Linked DNA regions of Homo sapiens. The protein of the gene in region 1 purifies or fractionates together with the protein of each later gene. This does not show direct contact. Each region holds a gene or a part of one and is shown in the gene's direction. Other genes may lie near its edges.

Region 1 (2,514 bases):
CTGATCTCTCCAACCTTCTCTCTCCCTCTTGGACACTGCCTGCATCTTCCTGGACTTCACTTCCCTGCCCTCCACTCTTCCTTTGCCTCCCTCCTGTACCTTGCGCCGTGCTGCACTGGGGGACTCCTGAGCAGGACCACAGCTTTTGGCTTCCTGAATGCCCTGTGTAAGCTGGCAGCTGTGCTGGGGATCAGCATCTTCACATCCTTCGTGGGAATCACCAAGGCTGCACCCATCCTCTTTGCCTCAGCTGCCCTTGCCCTTGGCAGCTCTCTGGCCCTGAAGCTGCCTGAGACCCGGGGGCAGGTGCTGCAGTGAAGGGGTCTCTAGGGCTTTGGGATTGGCAGGCACACTGTGAGACCAACAACTCCTTCCTTCCCCTCCCTGCCCTGCCATCCTGACCTCCAGAGCCCTCACTCCCCACTCCCCGTGTTTGGTGTCTTAGCTGTGTGTGCGTGTGCGTGTGCATGTGTGTAAACCCCGTGGGCAGGGACTACAGGGAAGGCTCCTTCATCCCAGTTTTGAGATGAAGCTGTACTCCCCATTTCCCACTGCCCTTGACTTTGCACAAGAGAAGGCTGAGCCCCATCCTTCTCCCCCTGTTAGAGAGGGGCCCTTGCTTCCCTGTTCCAGGGGTTCCAGAATAGGCTTCCTGCCTTCCCCATCATTCCCTCTGCCTAGGCCCTGGTGAAACCACAGGTATGCAATTATGCTAGGGGCTGGGGCTCTGGTGTAGACCATGGACCAAAAGAACTTCTTAGAGTCTGAAGAGTGGGCCTCGGGTGCCCTCTCACATCTCCTGTTGGATGCTGGGGGAGAAGCAATAAACCTCAGCCCTCTGGCCTCCACTTTCCTCTCAATTTGGGCTGCAAATATGAAGCCTGAATTTTATGAAATTAGCTTTCTGATTCTTATTTATTAATAGATTAAGTTCTGAGGCAGCTCCGCAGGACTGTGTGTGAATGTGTATGTATACTTACATATGTGTGTGCATGTGCCATGGGGCGGGGGGTATCACTATACTGTCCTCAAATATAAGCCAAGGGTAATTTCAGCGGATGCACACACAACCCTGCCTCCCACAGTTCCTCCCCTAATCTGGTTTCTGTGTTGAGCCTGGGATGGAGGAGCCCTAGGCCAGCCTGGGATAAGAGTCCCACAGTCTAGGGAGATCTGAGGGCATCCGACAAGGCCCATCTCCTTCCCTCCTCAAGAAGCAGAGGCCTCCTCTGGAGTGAGAGGCTCCACCCACTACAGCACAGGCGGGAATAGCACAGCTGCCCTCCCATGCTCCCTACCTGTCCCCTCACAGGGAGGGGAGCAGGGGAGGGAAAGAAACCAGGCATCTGGTCAAACCAGCAGATCAAAAAGCACAAAGAGCTGGGGCAGAGGCAGGAAGCAGGGGCCCTCCTGGCAGCTCCTCTGAGTGGGGAGAGGTTGGGCAGTGAGTGAGGGACCCCTAATGCAGGGACTAGAAGCCTCAGTTTCCCCATTTTACCCTTCCACACAATAGCCTCTGTAGGTTAGGCTGCCCCATCCCACCCTACTCTGTGTGGCTGCTTTCTTTGGTGCCCTCCCCTCACCCCACTGTAGCTGTGACGTGTTGTAGTTTTTAGATGTTTGTAAAATGTTTAAAAAAATGTTAAAAGGAAAAAAGTGAAAATAACAAAAAAGAAAATCAAAATTCACCTTCGTCATGCTGCGTCCAGTGCCCCAACCCTGTGGTCACTCTCCCCATTTTGTAACACTGTACCAGGTGGTGACTGTTTAACTCTTTGGTGTCTGTGCTCAAAAGACTGCCTTCTCCAGTGCCCAGTGTATGAGTGTGTGCCCTGTGCCCTTGTCCCTCACTCCCCACATGCTGGACGTAGCCCTCTTCCTCGCACCCCTGGGAGGGACCCATCCATCTCCCTTGCTCTCCTGGGGAACCCTAAACCCAACTCTGTTGATGTGAAAAATGCAGTGAAAAATATTGACGAAAAATAAAACGGAAACAAATCCTCAAAATACAAAATGGCTATACCTGCTTCTGTGACTCTCCACCTACATCCAATTCTCCTAACAGCCTTGGAGGGTAAAATGGTGAGATGGACTGAAGGTCAGAATAACATGGTGTACCAGATTTACTTCCTAAATTGGCCTCTCTACCTTGATCTTTCCCCTACAGATGGAGGGCCCTCTAAGTCTCCCAGATTTGAAAACTTTGGGAGTAATGTTTCATAAGAATAGAACCAACTTTCCTCTAAATCTTCTGGTATGCTTTTTAAAAATATAGACCCCAGACTCCACTCTTGACTTGTTGAATCAGAACCCTTTTTTTTTTTCTTGGTTTGGAAGGATAGGGACCTTGAATCTACGTTTTTTTTTTTTTTTGAGACAGAGTCTCGCTTTGTTGCCCAGGCTGGAGTGCAGTGGCGTGATCTTGGCTCACTGCAACCTCCGCCTCCCGGGTTCAAGCGATTCTCCTGCCTCAGCTTCCTAAGAGGCTGGGATTACAGGTGCCTGCCACCACAC
Region 2 (3,500 bases), on another chromosome or scaffold:
GTTCGAGACCAGTTTGGCCAACATGGTGAAACCCCGTCTCTACTAAAAATATAAAAATTAGCCAGATGTGGTGGCGCATACCTGCAGTCCCAACTACTCAGGAGGCTGAGGCAGGAGAATTGCTTGAACCCAGGAGGCAGAGGTTGCAGTGAGCCGAGATGGCATCACTGCACTCCAGCCTGGGTGACAGAGCAAGATTCCGTCTCAAAAAAAAAAGTATGTAGCCGTTTTCAATCTTAATATAAGTGTGTAATTTGCTAAAACATTAGTGTTGTGGTTTCGTATTACATTGTCTTGTTATGTACAGATAAGGAAAGTTTTTGATTATTTTTTGCACTGGACCCTCATAAAAAGTGATTGCCTAGATGACACTAGAAAATTCTAAGAAAAGTTTTCAGAGTCTCTACCTACTTGAGATTAATAAACATGTCTTTGGAGGCCAAACAATTAACTATGCACAGGTAGAGATTCCTTTTCTTTTGGGAGAATACAGTCTGTATGGGCATGTATTTAGAAGTACTTAACAGAGGAAGAGCTAGCTTAAGTTCCTTAATGAGAAGCATTTGGCTTTAGGAAATCCTAAGGTTTGTGAGGAACCTAGAAAATGACTTTGACATTCATTGGCTACAGTTATTTTCTTTGACTTTTCACATGTATTTCCCTTTAAAAGAAGTCATTGTTAGTCTAGGAGATTTGAGTACTGATAGTGCCTGTGAAGTGGAGGAGGGGGAATAGTTGGAGTCAGGAGATTTCTTGGAGAGGTAAAAGGATCATGATATGTGTAGGCTAAAATAGAACTCCTCCCACCCCCCAATAAAAAATCTGGGATTGGTGTTGGGAGAGATAATGGGGTAGATAATGAGGAATTTCTGCCCTCGGTGTCCATTGGCATACTCTGTACTGTAGTTACCCAGAGTTGTTTCCTGCCAGGCACTCAGTGCTTTTAATAGATGGAGTTGCAATTTACCGTAATATAATCATGAAATTGATAAATAAAGAAAAAACAGTGATAGGAAGATTTGAAATACAGAAGACCAGGTTTAAGGATTAACCACTTACATGGTATTATTTTAATATTAATTGTATATTATTTTTTTCCATGATGGCATCTTAAAGCTTTAGTGATTTTTATTTTTATTTTTATTTTTTTGAGACAGAGTTTCACTCTTGTTGCCCAGGCTAGAGTGCAATGGCGCAGTCTCGGCTCACTGCAACCTCTGCCTCCGGGGTTCAAGCAATTCTCCTGCCTCAGCCTCCTGAGTAGTTGGGATTACAGGCATGTGCCGCCAAGCCTGGCTAATTTTGTATTTTTAGTAGAGATGGGGTTTCTCCATGTTGGTCAGGCTGGTCTCGAACTCCCAACCTCAGGTGATCCGCCCGTCTTGACCTCCTAAAGTGCTGGGATTACAGGCATTAGCCACCATGCCCAGCTGATTTTTTTTTTTAGGAAAAATTTTTCCAGGAGCACCAGGCAAGTATTTAGGTTTTTTTTGCTTGTTTGTTTGTTTTGAGACGGAGTCTCCCTCTGTCACCCAGGCTGGAGTGCAGTGGCGTGATCTTGGCTCACTGCGACCTTCACCTGCCGGGTTTAAGCGATTCTTCTGCCTCAGCCTCCCAAGTAGCTAGGACTACAGGCGCGTGCCACCACGCCCAGCTAATTTTTTTTGTATTTTTAGTAAAGACGGGGTTTCAACATATTGGCCGGCCTGGTCTCAAACTCCTGACATCGTGATCTGCCTTCCTCGACCTCCCAAAGTGCCAGGATTACAGGCGTGAGCCACCATGCCTGGCTGTATTTAGTTGTTTTAAAAATATGTGCTGGCCAGGCGCGGTGGCTCATGCCTGTAATCCCAGCACTTTGGGAGGCTGAGGCGGGGCAGATCGCTTGAGCCCAGGGGTTAAGACCAGCCTGGGTAACAGGGTGAAACCCCATCTCTACAAAAAATTAAAAAACTAGCCGGCATGGTGGCACGCGCCTATAGTCCTAGCTACTCAAGAGGGTGAGGCAGGAGGATTATCGCTTGAGCCTGGGAGGCGCAGGTTGCATTGAGCCGAGATCTCACCACTGCACTCCAGCCTGGGTGATAGAGCGAGACCCTGTCTCAGAAAAAAGAAAAAGTGCTAATTCTGTACAGGATTTAAGGTATCAACTATATCTAAGTTAAACCCACGTTATTTTAACTGAACTTAAATTTTAAAAGTTAAAAATTTAAGAATCCATATATTGTGTAAGTAATTTTCATCTCCCTGTTTTCATATTCACCTCAGTAGTTGCGTATTGTAACCACAGTAGTATACTGGTAATAGTAAAAGAAATTCTGTCCTAAAAGAACTGAAAATTGAGTTCAAGATATTAAGAATTATCTGTGTAGGTGGGATTATGGGTGATTTATATATTTTTTGACATTTAGTTTTTCTGTAATGAGTATGCATTACTTTTGTTAGGTCCATTCTTAGAATCTTACTGTAGTCACTGATTTTATAATAGAAATATATTTTGATGCCGGGTACGGTGGCTCACACCTATAATCCCAGCACTTTGGGAGGCTGAGGCAGGTGGACCACGAGGTCAGTTCAAGAGCAGCCTGGCCAAGATGGTGAAAGCCCGTCTCTACTAAAAATACAAAAATTAGCGGGGTGTGGTGGCAGGTGCCTCTAGTCCCAGCTATACTGGGGAGGCTGAGGCAGGTAATTGCTTGAACCCGGGAGGCGGAGGCAGAGGTGAGCCAGGATTGTGCCACTGCACTCCAGCCTGGGCAACAGAGTGAGACTCCATCTCAAAAAAGAAAAAGAAATATATTTTGAAAGAAAGCTATAGTGATGATGTAATAGCTAGGAAAATGTAAGGCAATATAAAATGATATCTTAGAGATATTGATAAGCTGGAGCAGCAAAACTACCCAAGTGCTAGGGCATTATTTAGAGTATAAAAATGAATTCATACCCCCATTTCTTTTCTTTTTTTTTTTTGAGATGGAGTCTCGCTCTGTTGCCCAGGCTGAAGTGCAGTGGCGCGATCTCGGCTCACTGCAAGCTCTGCCTTCCGGGTTCACGCCATTCTCCTGCCTCAGCCTCCCAAGTAGCTGGGACTACAGGCGCCTGCAACCACACGCGGCTAATTTTTTGTATTTTTAGTAGAGACAGGGTTTCACCGTGTTAGCCAGGACAGTCTCAATCTCCTGACCTCGGGATCCGCCCGCCTCAGCCTCCCAAAGTGCTGGGATTACAGGCGTGAGCCACCGCGCCCAGCCTCATATCCCCCATTTCAAACACGCTGTAAACAATGCTCAATTACTTTCCTCTTAAGTTGAAACCACCAATTACTGGGGAAAGGGGCAGTTAGATTTTATTGGTTGACTTTGTGTTTTTACTAATCCTTGTTGAAAAGTAGAGGAATTGGTTTAGTTGAGAAAACAAAATACTAAAAAATCTGCCACTAGACTTTTTAAGTCAAGAGTTTGTATAAAATGAAACATATCTACTATCTAATCTATAAAATT
Region 3 (3,500 bases), on another chromosome or scaffold:
CTAAAAATACAAAAAATTAGCTGGACGTGGTGGCGGGCGCCTGTAATCCCAGCTACTCAGGAGGCTGAGGCAGGAGAATCACTTGAACCCGGGAGGCAGAAGTTGCGGTGAGCTGAGATTGCACCATTGCACTCTGGCCTGGGCAACAAAATTGAAACTTCTTCTCAAAAAAAAAAAAGAATGCCTCTTGGGCAAGCAGTCTGTGCCAGGCTGGAGAATGGTGAAAAAGGTGAAAGGGAAGGCCAGGTACAGCCGCGGTGGATATTAGTCAGTCTGAAAGGCACTTGGAGAGAAATAAGATTTACAAATGTAGGGTGCTCCAAAAGAGTGGAATGTCAAGTGTGTCTCCTAGTTCTTTGTTAGGCAAAGTCTGATTTCCTCACCGCCGTTACCCCTCCGGAAACATACTGTGGTGTCCGAGAGTTACACCATGTTTACATTGTAATGTCTTGGAGAGGGAAGCTCACTGAACTCAAAAAATATCCATTTGCAAAAGAAAAAAAGGATATGTAAAATACAGTGACTGTGTGTGTGTATGTATATGTTTAAAATATGCAAAAAAGGAGGGAAAACTTATTTTTCAGAAGGAAATAACGTTGCTATGCAACCCATATTTTGAAAGTTGTGAGCCAAGAGTATGTGTGTGTTTGCACCCAAAAGCTAATCAAGGAAGACTTGAGACACAGGTAGTCTTCTGTTTCTTGTCCCCAGATGTTTATCTTGAGGCCCACTGTTCCCTCTCTGCAATGAGGCATAGAGTGAAGGCTCAGTCCGGAAGCCCTGGCCCAATCTGGGCTGTAGTCACAGCTAAAGTGACAGTTTGTCAGAATGTCCCCTTTTCTGGGGGAGCTCACAGGACTTTGATCCAGTTCTTTTTCTTTTGAGATGGAGTTTCACTCTTGTTGCCCAGGCTGGAGTGCAATGGTGCGATCTTGGCTCACCACAAACTCCGCCTCCCAGGTTCAAGCAATTCTCCTGCCTCAGCCTCCCAAGTAGCTGGGATTACAGGCATGCACCACCACGCCCGGCTAATTTTGTATTTTTACCCCGTAGAGACGGGGTTTCTCCATGTTGAGGTTGGTCTTGAACTCCTGACCTCAGGTGATCCGCCCGCCTCGGCCTCCCAAAGTGCTGGGATTATAGGCGTGAGCCACCGCTCCTGGCCCCTTTTCCTTTTTTCTTTTTTTTTAAGACAGGGTCTTGCTGTGTCACCCACCAGGTCTGGAGTACAGAGGCACAGTCATGGCTCCCTGCAGTCTTGAACTCCTAGGCTATAGCAATCCTGCCTCACCCTCCTGGGTAGCTGGGACCACAGACATGTGCTACCATGTCTAGCTTTGGTCCAATCTTTTGCTGGCCACTTACTGAGACAGGATTTGTACATTCTGTGAGGACCCAGGCTCGTTTCTCGATAGCTTTCCCATTCCTATGCCATTGCTGACCCGTGTGCAGTGAACCTCACCAGGCCCAGGAAGCAGGGACACTGGCCTCTGTCAGGAGTTGGGCCTGGAGGTGAAGGGACAGACCTCACAGAAGGCTCTTTGTTGAGGCAGCGCCCACAGTGGCTAGAGCTTCTCTGGGGTCATCTCCTTCCATGGGCTGAAGGAATTATGGCAAGGGTCCAGCTCATCCTGGCTTTAAAAAAACAAAACCCCAGTGGCCTTGTCAGAAGTGGCCTGGATGCTGAGGCTGGTGGCAAAGATTTCTCAGTTCTCACCAGGGCCAGACTGTGGTGTTATCCAAACAGTGCAAGTGTCATCTGAGGACTCCATCACAGTCAGGCCTGATTCAAAAGGGAAGGTGGTCTGTGCTTTCAACAAGTCCCCCCAGGGTTTCTGACCCACAGCTTTGGGGAGGTTAATGCCTGGCCAGTCCTGGCTGGTGGACACAGGAGATGAGTCCAACCCTGGCTCTGTTCCTAGTGGCTGTGCCTTTGTCAGAAAGGCCCTTCCGGCCAGGTGCGGTGGCTCATGCCTGTATTCACAGCACTTTGGGAGGCCAGGGTGGGAGGATTGCTTGAGCCTGGGAGTTCAGGACCAAACTGGGCAACATAGTGAGACCTCATCTCTACAAAAAAAAGAAAGAGCTGTGCATGTGCCTGTAGTCCCAGCTACTTGGGAGGCTGAGGTGTGAGGATCACTTGAGCCCAGGAGTTCAAGGCTGCAGTGAGTTATGATCATGGCTCTGCACTCCAGCCTGGGCAACAGTGAAACCCTGGCTCTTAAAAAAACAAAACAAAACAAAAAAACCTTCCTATCTCAGGTTCTCAGTTGCCCAGGCTAGAATGCTGTGGCGTGATCTCTGCTCACTGCAGCCTCCGCCTCCTGGGCTCAAATGATGCCCTCATCTCAGCCTCACAAGTAGCTGGGACCACAGGCATGAGCCACTATGCCTTGGCTAATTTTTGTATTTTTTGTAGAGTTGAGGTTTTGTCATTTTGCCCAGGCTGGTCTCAAACTCCTGGGCTTAAGCGATCCACCTGCCTCAGCTTCCCTAGAGTACTGGGATTACAGGCCATTTTCTCCATCTTGAAAGGAGAGGTTCATGGATAGGTGGTTTCAAACTGGGTGCCTCAGGAGTAGGGCTGGGGATGGAGTGAGTGGGCTCCGGGGTCCCACCGCCCGCTGTTGCTGATTTTACATCCTGGTGCTCTTTGTGCCCTTAAAGTGGCTGGGGTTGTATCCCAGTTTACCCAGCTCTGACATCCAGGTGCTTTGGCTGAAGGCTTGAGGGCCTCCTGGGGTCTCTGGCCCCATGTGGCTCCGCCTCTCTGGGCCTGTTTCTGTTTTTGGGCTGCCTCAGGACCCATCCTGGCCCTGACTGAGGCAAGAGCATGACCGTTGAGATTGCCCCAGCAGCAGCATTTCCTCACTCAGTGTGAAGACACTGGCCACCCTGGGGTGGCTTGGTTCTCTGCCCGAGTGACCTCTCCTCTGCAGGGCTGGTGGTCGGTGTTTTAAGAAACTGGAAGTGAAGTACAGCACCTAGTTAGGATCTGGCTGAGACTTTGTCGTGGCTTCCTATGGACTCTAACTGATGTCCGGCCCCTGTTGTGGCTCTGACCCCTCAACATTCATTGTCTCTTGTGGCAGGCTTGTTGTCACTGTCGCCTAGTTCCACAAAATCAGGAACTCCCTTCTTGCCACAGACCAGTTTGCCCTGGGTGCTGGGGACACTTCTAGAGGTCAGGGACCTGCACAGAGCTAGGTCCTCAGGCAGGCTCTGCTCCTGCCCTGAATGGAGAGGCAAGGTAGGGGAGAGAGGATGTGCTGGGAGCTGGGGTGAGCCCACCTGCAGATGGGGGTTGCTCAGAAGTCAGTTGCATTTGTGCACTGGGTGGAATCTCCGAGGACTACACAGCTGGAAGGGAAGTGTGGACGCCCAAGAACTTCCTCTACTGAGCTCTCCTAGCACCTTTTTCTTCATTTATTTGTTTGTTTGACAGAGTCTCGCTCTGTCACCCAGGCTGGAGTGCAGTGGGGCGGCGATCTTGGCTCACT
Region 4 (3,500 bases), on another chromosome or scaffold:
CAATCCCCAGAGGTTTTTGTTTTTTTAATTGAGCCAATATTTTAAAAATGAGAAATTGCACATAAAAATCTGGGACTCCATCTTCTTGAGAGAAATCAACATTAGGCCCACATTCATTCAGTTATGACAGTAGTAGCTGGGGTGAAGGATACTGTCTCTGGTTTACAAAACCTCTGTCACTCACATAGTATATGTGTGTGCAGTTCGACCCAGCCTGGATCATTCACTCATGGCATCTGCTTTCTTGGTACCTGTCAGCATTTGAGTTTGCTATATCTATGGCAGACAGAAGCCACTGAAAGTGTTTAAGTAGGAGGATGGACCTGATCAGCTTTACATTGTAAACATCACCTGCCTGCCATGGAGAGAAAGAATTAAGAGACAGGGAGCACTAGAAGCAGGGCTGTCATGTAGGAAGACTAGATGAGGATCTGAATTGGTTTTGGGGATGAGGAAAAAGAAGACAGGCTAGAAAACTATTTAGGGTGTAGGACTGATAGCACTACGTGACCTAATATGAGGTTTCCATACATGAAGCGGGTAGAAGGGAAGGAGGAGCCAAGACTAATGTCTCAATTGGTGGTTTTTGCCAGTGTGTAGCTGGAGCTTCCATGTCCTGGTTTAGGAAACACAAGAGGAGAGATGACTGTTTGGAGAAGGAAGAGAAGTAGTTCAGTGTGGGACCCTATCTGAAGGTATACACAGGACATCTAAATGGAGAATCTTGGAAGATTGGAAATGTGTCTTTGGATCCATGTTGGAAGCATGGATTTGGAGTCATCAGTCTTTTATTTTATTTTTCATTTATTTATTTTGAGACAGGGTCTTGCTTTGTCACCCAGGCTGGAGTGCAGTGGCACAAAATGGCTTACAGCAGCCTCTACCTCCCAGGCTCAAGTGATCCTCTCATTGCAGCCCCCTACATAGCTGGAACTATAGGCACAACAAGCCACTGCACCTAGCTGCACACACACAAACACACACACACAATTTTTTTTTTTAGATGGCGTTTCACTCGGTTGCCCAGGCTCACTGCAACCTCTGCCTCCCAGGTTCAAGCAATTCTCCTGCCTCAGCCTCCCGAGTAGCTGGGATTACAGGCACCAGCTATGACAACCGGCCAGTTTTTTGTATTTTTAGTAGAGACGGGGTTTTACCATGTTGTCTAGGCTGGTCTTAAACTCCTGACCTCAAGTGATCCACCCGTCTCGGCCTCCCAAAGTGCTGGGATTACAGGTGTGAGCCACCGTGTCTGGCGCTACTTTTATATTTTTTATAGAGATGGGGTTTTGCCATGTTGTCCAGGCTGGTCTCAAACTCCTGAGGTGCAGTGATCTGCCTGCCCTGGCTTCCCAAAGTGCTGGGATTACAGGCATGAGCCACCGTGCCTGGCCAGCCTTTAGATGGCAGTTGAAGCCTTGGGAGTAGGTGAGCTCACACAGGGAACATGTACAGTAAGGAGAGAAGAAGCATAGGATAGATTTCTGGGGAACCCCAGCAGACACAGGTAGGATGCTGTAGAGAAAAGAAAAGAAGTCAGAGGGGGTGATGCTACAGCAGAACAGGGAGGAGACAGCTACAAGTAGGACAAAGGGTAAACAGTGGCACACACTGCAAAGAGCTTATACAAGATCCTACTTGAAAAGCCTCATTTAACTTAGCAACAAAGATGTCAGTTGGTCACCTTGAAGAGGGGAGTTTTGAGGGTGAGGGCAGCAGAAACCCTGATTGCAATTCAAGAAGGAAGTGGGGAAATGCAGAAAGACACCCGGGGAGTGTCCATGCCACAACGTGGTTGTGGTTTGGAGAGGATAATAGGACAGGCATATCGGATGGAGGAAAGTAGGCTTGTTTTTCCTGATTCTGTCTTGAACTTCTTCACTTACATTTTCATTGAGAATAAATATGAGGGGCTAGGCTTTCACTTAGTGAGCTAATAATTTGCACATCTGGACCCACCTGTGTTTTTGTTGGATTTTGAATTTTACGAAATCGTTTTAGAGGCCGGGTGCAGTGGCTCATGCCTGTAATCCCAGCACTTTGGGAGGCCGAGGCCTGAGGTCAGGAGTTCAAGACCAGCCTGACCAACATGGCGAAACCCCGTCTCTACTAAAAATACAAAAATTAGCCAGGTGTGGTGGCGGGTGCCCGTATTCCCAGCTACTCGGGAGGCTGAGGCAGAAGAATCGCTTGAACCCGGGAGGCAGAGGTTGCAGTGAGCTGAGATCAAGCCATTGCACTCCAGCCTGGGTGACAGAGCGAAACTCCGTCTCAAAAAAAAAAAATTGTTTTAGAGAATGTAGTTTGATTATGGATGGCACTCTGCATGTGGGTTGCCTAGCCGATGTTAAGTGATTTTTAGATTGCTTTTGTCCCTTTGTACATTGGTTTAACAGGATTGCCCCCGCGATGTTACGCCAGGCATCCTATGGCACCATCAAGATAGGCACTTACCAGAGCTTGAAGCGACTATTCATTGAACGCCCAGAAGGTGAGTGGGGAATCTGTTTTCCACTGTGGACAGGAGGTTGGTTGTCTGTCTTTTTATTCAAGTGGTTTTGGAGCAGGTTTTCTTCAGCTTATTTGTGACTTTCCTACTGCTACAAGAACTCTGGGTGTAAAGTCTTAGTTAATTGTGCTGAAAGCAAGTTGGTTATCAACTCAATTGAGGGGAGAAATAATGAAAAGGAACCATCTCTGCAAACATTTTAATTAGTTGTCCCCATCTCCAAAATGCCTAGACCAGGGGATGTGTTGTTACTATTCCATCCAACTTAAAATTTGCTAAAATCATATGAATTGTCATCTATTTTTCAGGAAAACAGTGAATACATTTCTTAATATTAACAACACTGAATGCTAATACTCTGGCTTTTTGGTTCTGTGGCTTTGTTTTGATCCATAGAACTGTCCATCTTCATCTCTTTTCACAATGGGATGAGTACCAGACACTATTATGTAAGAGTGGTGAACAAGAGCTAAGATGCTTTGGAAATACTTCAGGATATTTCAAACTAAATACATACGATGTGCTTTAAAAACTTTCTGTGCCAAATAAGTCGTCATGTTATCTCATAGGAATTATTGTCCTAACAGATATAGCTCATCTTAATTATGATGGTCTGAATTTATACATAAATGTGAACTGGGGCTGGGTGCGGTGGCGCGTGCCTGTAATCCCAGTGCTTTGGGGAGGCTGAGGCGGGCAGATCACTTGAGCCCAGAAGCTCCAGACCAGCCTCGGCAACATGGTGAAACACCATCTCTACAAAAAATACAAAATATTAGCCAGGCGTGGAGGTGCACGCCTATAGTCCCAGCTACTGGGGAGGCTGAGATGGGAGGATCACCTGAGTCCAGGAGGTCGAGGCTGCAGTGAGCTGTGATTGTGCCACTGCACTCCAGCCTAGGTAACAGAGTGAGACCCTATCTCAAGAGAAAAAAAATAAAATCACATTTAGATATCAATAAATTTTGCAAAGCAAAATTCCTTCATTAGT
Region 5 (3,500 bases), on another chromosome or scaffold:
ATGGAACAAAGTTTTGACTGCATTTTGACTGTGACCATCGGTCATGTGGAATTTTCCACTTGTAGCATCGTGTCGGTGCCCACAATGTTTTGGATTCTGGAGCATTTCAGATTTTTGGATTAGGAATGTTCAACTTGTAGTAACAAATATCACCCGAGGTCTGAGTGTTAGCCCTGGAGATGGGTTATTCCCCAGAGTCTCACCCTTCCTCCCCTCTACATATGACCAACAAAGTTTGAGCTGATAGCAGTAAACTAGACAAGAATCTAAAATATCTGATTCTAAGAAATTATTTTAGTGACAGCTACAGATTCTATAACAAATACCCCCAAATTCAGAGGCACTTTTAGTAGTAAGAGAAGAGCCAGTCAGTACTGTGACTTTTTTTTAACGTATCTGAACTAAAGTTCAAAGTTCAAAGGACTGTGGTTAGGAAGTATAGCAGCATACCACTTAAAGAGATTAATCTGCACAGAGTAAGAGGAAAATGCATGTCACAATGGAAGAAATAAAAGTGACAACCTCAAAAAAATCGATCTTGGTCATCTGCCTCTCAGATGTTACAAAATAGCAATCAACAAATATTTGCAATAGTTTAAATTCTTAATTCACTTTCTAGTAGTTTCCTAGTAGACTCTTTCTACCCCTCTCTATAATATACTAGTGTTTTTGTTTTGAGTTTCAAAAAGGCAATATTCACCTATTTATATATATTCTCCGTGATTGTTTGAGGCATCAACAGATTTCTAGGTGAAGAAACCAAAATAAATGTTTTCAATTTATGTTAAAAGTTACATTTCTTGGTAAAGGATTTTTCCACACTGGTTTTTATTAAATCAAGCTGTATAACTAGCATCCTGTCCCTAGCCCAGCACCCTGCATGAGGTAGGTGTTCGATTCATGTTTGGCTCTGGTGAGGGGTATACGCTGTCGGAACCCACAGGGTATCACTGAGTCCTAACGAACGATGTAAGTCAAAGTGAACAAAATAGCAAGATTTGTAGAAAAGCTAGAAACTTGGCTATAATCAAGGATGGAGCAATGAGAAATGACCTGGAGAATGGGGGCAGGAGGTTCCTGCAAAGAAAGAAGACAGTAAAAGGCCAGGCAAAGAAGATTCGGTTTTTATAAGAGAAAGGCTGGGGAGGGACCCAAGGTGGTTGTTGAATGATAGATATCATCATCACAGAGTGACTTCTCTAAGAGTTCAAGTCCAAGGCAACCACTGAGAAGGGTATTTTCTTTCACACGCATCTCTTTTAAACCTCTGGTTGAGATTTAAATCATTTTTTATATATATGCAATTTTTAGGAAAAGGAACCTTTCCATTTTTTGCAGCGACCTCTGGTAGGAATAAACTCTCCTCTGGCGTGAAATGAACTCATACTTCCCTGGTACCTACGTATATTGGCAAATTAGCTGTTCCAGGGCGTGAGAGCTGGGAAAAGGGTTCAGCCACCCAGGAGAAATTGTTCTCTCCTCCCTAGCAGTGCTGCCATTGGAAAGAACCTGACTGATCAGGAGGCACTGGGCTTGAGCGGCTTTGAAAGCAAACAAACTTACTGTTGTCTGCAGATGGTAATTTCTTGGTTCTGTTAATTCTGTTGGGGAATGGGGTCCCTTTAGATTTCTATCAGGTGTTAACAAGAGGTAAATGATACGAAAGATCATCTTGGTTTCCCAGACTGAATGGTTTTAAAAGCCTTTTCTGGTGTAAAAGCATTTGAAGGGAAAAAAAATATTGTGGGAAAATGTAATGCCACCCTTTCTTAGCTAAAACAGCTTCATATAAGCAAGTTGTCCGTCAGGAATGAATACATCACAGTAGCATGGACGACAGCGGGTCTATTTGAGACCAGAGCTTGTCGGGGAGGCTGCAGTCCCCTTTGACACACAGCCAGCACTTTCTTCAGCAACTGTATAGAAAGCCTTTTCTGTCGCGGGTATTATTGATCTTCTTAAGGGAGCATAACTCATGCTCTCCACTTTGCATTTACAGGGTGAGCAAATCAGATAGACATTTTCGAAAAGGGCTTTCAAGTACTTCTAAATTAGGCTGGCCATTTAATTTACATATCTCAGATATAAAAGTCTCCATTGTTTGGAATGCATGTGTTCGTGCATAGAAGTTGTTAACCCTGGAATAAAAGATGCCTGTCATAGCTTACATGTTGAACGCTTCCATGGCAAATTACCTATTTTCAGGAGCTGGCAGTATTTTCAGATATTTTCCATCTTAATTAAATCTTATGTTGTTTAGTTTAAAACTGCATTATTCTGTTGTTTCCTGACTTTTTAATGATCGCCATTCTAACTGGTGTGAGATGACATCTCATTGTGGTTTTGATTCGCATTTCTCTAATGAACAGTGATGATGAGCTTTTTTCCATGTGTCTTTTGGCTGCATAAATGTCTTCTTTTGAGAAGTGTCTGTTCATATCCTTCGCCCACTTGTTGATGGGGTTGTTTTTTTCTTGTAAATTTGTTTGAGTTCTTTTTTTTTTTTTTAAGTTTTAGGGTACATGTGCACAACGTGCAGGTTTGTTACATATGTATACATGTGCCATGTTGGTGTGCTGCACCCATTAACTCGTCATTTAGCATTAGGTATATCTCCTAATGCTATCCCTCCCCCTTCCCCCCACCCCATGATAGGCCCCGGTGTGTGATGTTCCCCTTCCTGTGTCCATGTGTTCTCATTGATCAATTCCCACCTATGAGTGAGAACATGCGGTGTTTGGTTTTTTGTCCTTGTGATAGTTTGCTGAGAATGATGGTCTCCAGCTTCATCCATGTCCCTACAAAGGACATGAACTCATCATTTTTTATGGCTGCATAGTATTCCACGGTGTATATGTGCCACATTTTCTTAATCCAGTCTATCATTGTTGGACATTTGGGTTGGTTCCAAGTCTTTGCTATTGTCAATAGTGCTGCAATAAACATACGTGTGCATGTGACTTTATAGCAGCATGATTTATAATCCTTTGCGTATATACCCAGTAATGGAATGGCTGGGTCAAATGGTATTTCTAGTTCTAGATCCCTGAGGAATCGCCACACCCACTTCCACAATGGTTGAACTAGTTTACAGTCCCACCAACAGTGTAAAAGTATTCCTATTTCTCCACATCCTCTCCAGCACCTGTTGTCTCCTGACTTTTTAATGATCGCCATTCTAACTGGTGTGAGATGGTATCTCATTGTGGTTTTGATTTGCATTTCTCTGATGGCCAGTGATGATGAGCATTTTTTCATGTGTTTTTTGGCTGCATAAATATCTTCTTTTGAGAAGTGTCTGTTCATATCCTTCACCCACTTTTTGATGGGGTTGTTTTTTTCTTGTAAATTTGTTTGAGTTCATTGTAGATTCTGGATATTAGCCCTTTGTCAGATGAGTAGGTTGCAAAAATTTTCTCCCATTCTGTAGGTTGCCTAGTCACTCTGATGGTGGTTTATTTTGCTGTGCAGAAGCTCTTGAGTTTAATTAGATCCCATTT
Region 6 (3,500 bases), on another chromosome or scaffold:
TAACACTTGGCCTGGCATAGGCAAGGGGCAGGCTATGGGGCTGCAAAGATTTTCCAATTGTTCAGCGTGCAGGAAGGGCCTAATTTATACCCTCCCCATCCTCTCTTGGGGTAATAAATAATCCTTTATTTCTACATTGGTAACCATGATACTACTGACAGCCATGGCGCATACTTCCAGAGCATGTTCCTTTCATGAGTGCTCATTTGCTCTGTGATATCCTGAGACTGTGTGTGTGCATGTGTGCACAATGTCAGAAAGTCAGGGTCAGGAGCAGCTGTGAATGCTGCCTTGTGTGGGCGTAGGCTGAAGGAGAGTTTCTGCCATGATCGCCAGTTCTTCCTTGGGCCTTCTTCACCAGTGCAGGAATCTTGTGGTTTGGAATTAGCCCCTTGCTTCATCTTTGCAACCACCCTCCTTTTTTCTTTCCTGGTATAAAAGGTCAACCCTGGGAAGCAACCTTTAGAGCAAAGCACAAAACAGCTGTGTCTTCTTTGGATCTAAGTCCTGGTCCAGCTGCTATAGAGCTGGGGCACCTGCAGCCTCAACGCCAACTGGCAATGGGGGGCTGGGGCCTGGCTGGCCTGCAAGGTGAATGTTATGGGGATGTAGGGCAAAGGCATGCTGGGGGCCCAGACTCTCTGACCTCGTTGCTTCCCTCTCCCCACAGCGGGAATGCATATCAGTCCACGTGGGCCAAGCGGGAGTTCAGATTGGCAATGCCTGCTGGGAGCTCTTCTGCCTGGAACACGGCATCCAGGCAGACGGCACTTTTGATGCTCAAGCTAGCAAGATCAACGATGATGACTCCTTCACCACCTTTTTCAGCGAGACTGGCAATGGGAAGCATGTGCCCCGGGCCGTCATGATAGATCTGGAGCCTACTGTAGTGGGTGAGTGGGGGCGGAGTTCCCCTCCACAGAGAACATCTCGAAACTGCAGAGGCATTGGCCCACAGTAGCTAAGGAAGCAGCGTCTCTAGCTGGAAGGTGGGGATGGTGCAACCGCAGCCTCCCACCCCACGTGACATCTGTCAGCTCCTTGGGGTCCCCACAGTCTCGGGGAATCTCATGACAGTGATCAAGACTCTATGCAGAACAAAATGCCTCCCACTTCAACCCCAAAACCTGCGGCACCAGGTCAAAATGGTCACATCGCTACTAAATACTAAGGATAAGAAAATCCAAATAATTTTAGAAATTATAAGACACCCCTAAGTGAGCAATTTCCCTAAGTATAGGTTTCTGAGTCTGCCCTCGGGGTGGGTATAACCTCACAGCATCTTACACACAAAGGGGCCTATCACAGCAGGCACATTGCTTCACAGCCAGGGGCCGCTGGAGTTCTGGAATGAGGTTCATTCAGGTTTAGGAAACACAGGAATTCTGCCTTGTGTCTAGGCAGATCTCCCCTTCCCACACTATCCCCCAGTAGTGCCACTTCCCCTGTTTCTGACCCCTGGGTCAACTCTCAGTTGAATATCAGGATTTCCCCAGCTCCAAGCCTGGCTCCTCAAGCCAGAGATGGACAGTTCTGCAAAGAGGACTGGGCACGAAGTATATGCCTGGACACCAATGTCTAGGGGCAACAGAGGGCAGATGCTCCACCCCCTGGATGCTTTGCACCAATGCACAAAGTGCAGGTTACCTCCTGGGCCACTGCACAGATGATTTTTCTGCAGGGAGTAGAGGAACCCCGAAGAGAAGAGGTGACATAGTTGGGGCCTGATGTGTCTTGATCTGCTCTGTATCCGCTTTGTGTGGACCCTTGGAAGTGAGCAGAGACCCCTTAAAGGCCTCTCTAGGGCTCTTGCTCCTCTATGACTTGGAACATAGCTTTGCTTCCCATTATTCTAAAATATGTCTAATGCCTGACATATATTATTGCCACCATGAGGTGGAGTTGAGGGGTGGGACAACTCTTGGGGGTCTAGGTTCTGGGCAGATCATCCTGAATCTTTCTCCATGTCCCTAGAATATTTTAATGCAAAAGGACTTAAGTTAAATTGTTGGTACACCTTGGCCCGGCGCGGTGGCTCACACCTGTAACCCCAGCACTTTGGGAGGCCGAGGCGGGTGGATCACGAGGTCAGAAGATCGAGACCATCCTGGCTAACACAGTGAAACCCCGTCTCTACTAAAATTACAAAAAATTAGCCAGGCGTGGTGGTGGGCGCCTGTAGTCCCAGCTACTCGGGAGGCTGAGGCAGGAGAATGGCGTGAACCCGGGAGGCGGAGCTTGCAGTGAGCCGAGATCGCGCCACTGCACTCCAGCCTGGGCGACAGAGCGAGACCCCGTCTCCAAAAAAAAAAAAAAAAAAAAAAAAAAAATTGTTGGTACACCTTGCAGCATGAAAGAAAAAACAAAAGGGAAACCTGGAGGAGTCAAGGTGGAAGGGAGGAGAGGCAATTGGCGTTGGTGTTCGATGAGCTTTTTTTTTGTTTTTTTGTTTGTTTGTTTTTTTGAGACGGAGTCTCGCTCGGTCGCCCAGGCTGGAGTGCAGTGGCGTAATCTCGGCTCACTGCAAGCTCCGCCTCCCGGGTTCAAGCCATTCTCCTGCCTCAGCCTCCCGAGTAGCTGGGACTACAGGTGCCGGCCACCACGCCTGCCTAATTTTTTTGTATTTTCAGTAGAGACATGGTTTCACCATGTTAGCCAAGATGGTCTCGATCTCCTGACCTCGTGATCTGCCTGCCTTGGCCTCCCAAAATCCTGGGATTACAGGCGTGAGTCACTGCACCCGGCCGGCCCAAGTTTTGTTGCTGTTGTGTTTTTTTTGGAGATGGAGCCTCGCTCTGTCTTGTTGCCCAGGCTGGAGTGCAGTGGCAAGATCTCAGCTCACCTCAGCCTCTGCCTCCCAGGTTGAAGAGATTCTCCTGCCTCAGGCCTCCGAGTAGCTGGGACTACAGGCGCACGCTGCCACACCTGGCTAACTTTTTGTATTTTAGTAGAGATGGGGTTTCACCGTGTTGCCCAGGCTGGTCTTGAACTCCTAAGCTCAGGCAATCTGCCCGCCTCGGCCTCCCAAAGTGTTAGGATTACAGGCGTGAGCCACTGGGCCCGGCGATGTTCGATGAGCTTTGTAAAGCTAAGTCTTTTTAGGGTTCTAGCCAGCAGGGCAGCCTGCTTCTCACCGCCCACATGAGCCACAGGCCTTGGCTCTGTTAGTCCCTGAGCTACCCGGGAATTCTCTTAGCCTTTTGCAGATTCATTACGAGGTGGTCTGGCTTCAAACCTCCATGGAGTTTTATAGGTAGGGGAGAACGGAAGGGGTCCTGCGGTAGTGTGGTAGGGAGGGAGGCTTCTCCCCTGGGCAGTAGGACCTAATGGTCTTCCTCTCTTGGAAGATGAGGTTCGGGCAGGAACCTACCGCCAGCTCTTCCATCCAGAGCAGCTGATCACAGGAAAGGAGGATGCAGCCAACAACTATGCCCGGGGCCACTACACGGTGGGCAAGGAGAGCATTGACCTGGTGCTGGACCGCATACGGAAGCTGGTAA
Region 7 (3,500 bases), on another chromosome or scaffold:
ATGGACGTGTGCATACATACACTCACTTGGTCACCAGTTTACTTACTCACATAGGTGCAGTGCTGGGGAAACACCTAGGAGGGCTGGCCCAGTTGGCAGAGTCAGGGAAGGAGGGCATCACAAAAGAAGGAAGCAAAGGGGACCTTGAAGGATGAGTTCTGGAACCTGAAAAGGCAACAAGGCTTTCAGCTAACTTGATTGCATCAGCTCTTTACATCTCTGTAATTTGGTTGATGAAAGCATTGTGTGTTCCAGAGTGTCAGTTGACCTAACATCTTTGATTTACTCATATTGAATGTGCTAGGGTTGTCATAACTCTTGAATGCATCCTTTTTCCCTGTGTTTAGAGCAGCCTTGCTAAGGGCTGGGACCCAGGGTAGTAAGGTTTTTCTGCTCATGTCTTCCAGTATTAGGCCCATTGTTGAGGGAGATTATTTTTTCAGTCATAAAAAGGCATAATTTGTATTGCTAAATATGGTGCTCCCTCCTTGACTATTTTTGTTTCATGTACACTTAGTAAGTCACTGTGGGCCCACTACTGTTTTCTAAATATTAAGGGAAAAGAATATTCCTTAATCATCTTAAGGTTCGATCTGATGCTTGAGAAGAAAAAGGGAATATATTTAGACTGAGTAGCTCAGGATAAAAATTTGGTATCATCAAATAAAATATATGAACTTAGCTAATTGTGATATGCAGAGCCTCTTAAGTATGGTTTTTTGTTTTTTTAAGTTATGGGATATGTTAAAGTTTTTTTGTTTGTTTGTTTTTTGTTTTTGTTTTTGTTTTTTTTTTTTGAGATGGAATCTTGCTCTGTCACCCGGGTTGGAGTGCAGTGGCACTATCTCGGCTCACTGCAACCTCCACCTCCCAGTTCAAGCGATTCTCCTGCCTCACTCTCCTGAGTTGCTGGGATTACAGGTGTGTGCCACCACGCCTGGCTAATTTTTGTATTTTTGGTAGAGACGGGGTTTCACCATGTTGATCAGGCTGGTCTCGAACTCCTGACTTCATGATCTGCCTGCCTCTGCCTCCCAAAGTGCTGGGATAATAAGGAAAGATTTTTAATGAAAGTCCGTGCCCTGAATTTATTTAGAAGAACAAACACTTGTTCTTTCTGCCAATAACCTTATGTTATCTTTTTAATATAAGACATAATATAGAATGCCAAGCTTGGAGGCCTCTGATGAATTGTAATGGACCACCTGTTTCTCTTCAACTTAGAGAACATTCCCATTATGTTATGAATGCATAACATTGCCAGTTATATATTATTAAAATTATCACTATATTGCTCTCAAAATTGTATTGGAATAAAACTGTATGCTAAACTTCATTAAACTTTAATCAGAGTTTTGCTTTTCTCAATATAGTGCTTACCAGCGAGGGTATTGTTTTCATCTCAGACTTCTCCCCATCCAAGCCTCCCTCAGGCCCTGGGAAAAAAGTTTACATATCCAGCCCACACTCTAGCCCAGCTCATAACAAGCTGGCCACAGCCACAGGTGCCAAGAAAGCTCTAAATAAAGTAAAAATTTTAATCACTCAAGAGAAACCTAGGTAAGTTACAAGTGTAAAATTAACATTCATCTACTTATCTGGTATGAAAGCATCATTTTTGGAGATGTACAAAGACTGATGTTTTTCTTCATCTCACTTTTTCTCATTTCTAATTTTGAATTTATTAGAGGAAAAAAATATTTATTTTTGTCCCCTGCCCTAAGAGGAGATTCAGCATTTAACATTGCCTTTGTTTCCACTAGCTGTGCTAAACTTCCCCACTGACTTTTATAGATTAAAATTTTTGAATTCTGATTTTTACTTGTGAAAATCGCAATGATCCTAAAGTTCAGGCAATTGAATGCATTAAAAATTTGGGCACAAAAGCTGGATACTCATTTTAAATACATTTTCCTGACTTAGGTGCTGTGCATTCTCATTCAGCAGTAAAATCGGAGTGTTTTTCTTATGCAGGTGAAGATGTCTCCCATCCTGGTTAAGAGCCAAGGCTCCGGGGGAAGCTTTAGCTATGAGACTGAGAAACTTCTTTAATCTTACTCAAATTTCTCTCTCCCAGTCTCTAAAATAAGGCTTTAAAGTATTTCATAGGGTTGTTTTAAAGATCAATAGATCCAATAATGTAAGTAAAGCATGTAATGTCATTGATACATAGTAATTTATTTAGAAGATGTCGGCTGTTATTAAGAAATTACAACTGAATAAAAGTTTATTTTAAGTAATTTGATGTATTCAAAATAGGTTTCTTTCTTTTTCCTATAGCAATAATCTGTATATTATTGCTTTGGCAGGCTTTTTTGTTTGTTTTGGCATTCATTTTCAGATAGCCTTTATTTTTAATATGCCAAGATTACTCTCTCTAGGCTTGGTGAGTAACTACTTGAAAAATATGTGGTAAAAATATAAATTGCTCTACAAATACATTTTGCACTTGTGTGTAAGTATCACTTCTATATATTAAGCCATAGGCTGGTTAAGTTCACTAGTTAATTTATCTCTCACCCTGTGCCAAAATGACTTAAGATTACTTCTTAAGTATCTTAAGAGAACTTTCTATTTTTTATGTATTCCCTCTCATAAACAAGAAATTATTTGGCAGTCTGAATAGTTTTATAAGTTATGTTTTATATTTCTTAAGTTTTCTCTCATATGAATTATATGTATATCTTGAGTATTGGGGAAATACATTATTTCTTCAAGTAGAACCGCTCTGGGTGCTTTCACATCTATTAATTCCTGGACTCTTACTACAATTCTGGCAGTAGTAATATTCCCATTTTACAAATAAGGAAAACTGAGTCCCACACCAATTTAAATAAAGTTACTCAAGCTCACCCAACTAGGACATGGCAGTCGGGATTTTAATGCAATAAAAATTCCTCTTTCTAGTCTTGTGAACTAACTTTATTTTAAATTTCAAAGCCTTTTAATAAAATTATGTTTGTAAAATGAAATGTAAAATGAAAATAGTACATAATTGTATGTCTATTCCTATTGAAATATATTTAATATAGAAAAGGTCATTGAATGTATGCAACAATCACAAATTATTAAAATGATTTTTCAGACCCTAACAATCTCTTAAAATCCTTATAGTTTCACCTGTTTTATTTACACACAAGAAAATGCTGCAATATAAGTGAAACTTTGTTTCAAAAAAGATTTAAGACAGCTTAAAAGTGAATGAAGGCAGCCAAGGGGAAGTTACTTGCCCAAAGCCATACAGATAGTCCAGTAACTCCTGGTCCAGGGGCCCTAATTACCCTAAATGTTGATGTTTTTCATCCTGAGTCTTGATTTTAACAGTTTGCCTAGTACTTTTAATGACAAAGTAAAAGTAAAATAAAACTGTCTTATGCATGCCAGCTATTATTATATTATCATTTACCATGTCTTGTGTAATATTAATAACTTAATATTCTACTACTTAATATTTCAAAAACTTAGAAACACTGACATTTCTACCCATCCTATACAATATT

What was found.
Region 2: the proteins of SV2A (region 1) and HELLS purify together in Homo sapiens (affinity purification with mass spectrometry; one large-scale study listed by BioGRID and IntAct). This does not show direct contact.
Region 3: the proteins of SV2A (region 1) and TKT purify together in Homo sapiens (affinity purification with mass spectrometry; one large-scale study listed by BioGRID and IntAct). This does not show direct contact.
Region 4: the proteins of SV2A (region 1) and SLC25A30 purify together in Homo sapiens (affinity purification with mass spectrometry; one large-scale study listed by BioGRID and IntAct). This does not show direct contact.
Region 5: the proteins of SV2A (region 1) and JPH1 purify together in Homo sapiens (affinity purification with mass spectrometry; 2 studies listed by BioGRID and IntAct, with this or other methods). This does not show direct contact.
Region 6: the proteins of SV2A (region 1) and TUBA8 purify together in Homo sapiens (affinity purification with mass spectrometry; one large-scale study listed by BioGRID and IntAct). This does not show direct contact.
Region 7: the proteins of SV2A (region 1) and WDR11 purify together in Homo sapiens (affinity purification with mass spectrometry; 2 studies listed by BioGRID and IntAct, with this or other methods). This does not show direct contact.

What each region holds. Positions count from the first base shown.
Region 1 is NC_000001.11:149,902,818-149,905,331, reverse strand, and holds the end of SV2A (synaptic vesicle glycoprotein 2A), read left to right. Parts: intron 1-134; coding exon 135-318; 3' UTR 319-2,014; downstream 2,015-2,514. UniProt on the Homo sapiens protein: Plays a role in the control of regulated secretion in neural and endocrine cells, enhancing selectively low-frequency neurotransmission.
Region 2 is NC_000010.11:94,548,788-94,552,287, forward strand, and holds part of HELLS (lymphoid-specific helicase), read left to right. Parts: intron 1-3,500. UniProt on the Homo sapiens protein: Plays an essential role in normal development and survival. Involved in regulation of the expansion or survival of lymphoid cells. Required for de novo or maintenance DNA methylation. May control silencing of the imprinted CDKN1C gene through DNA methylation.
Region 3 is NC_000003.12:53,249,523-53,253,022, reverse strand, and holds part of TKT (transketolase), read left to right. Parts: intron 1-3,500. UniProt on the Homo sapiens protein: Catalyzes the transfer of a two-carbon ketol group from a ketose donor to an aldose acceptor, via a covalent intermediate with the cofactor thiamine pyrophosphate.
Region 4 is NC_000013.11:45,404,874-45,408,373, reverse strand, and holds part of SLC25A30 (kidney mitochondrial carrier protein 1), read left to right. Parts: intron 1-2,396; coding exon 2,397-2,491; intron 2,492-3,500. UniProt on the Homo sapiens protein: Antiporter that transports inorganic anions (sulfate, sulfite, thiosulfate and phosphate) and, to a lesser extent, a variety of dicarboxylates (e.g. malonate, malate and citramalate) and, even more so, aspartate.
Region 5 is NC_000008.11:74,255,541-74,259,040, reverse strand, and holds part of JPH1 (junctophilin-1), read left to right. Parts: intron 1-3,500. UniProt on the Homo sapiens protein: Junctophilins contribute to the formation of junctional membrane complexes (JMCs) which link the plasma membrane with the endoplasmic or sarcoplasmic reticulum in excitable cells.
Region 6 is NC_000022.11:18,120,809-18,124,308, forward strand, and holds part of TUBA8 (tubulin alpha-8 chain), read left to right. Parts: intron 1-670; coding exon 671-893; intron 894-3,347; coding exon 3,348-3,496; intron 3,497-3,500.
Region 7 is NC_000010.11:120,861,362-120,864,861, forward strand, and holds part of WDR11 (WD repeat-containing protein 11), read left to right. Parts: intron 1-1,373; coding exon 1,374-1,560; intron 1,561-3,500. UniProt on the Homo sapiens protein: Involved in the Hedgehog (Hh) signaling pathway, is essential for normal ciliogenesis.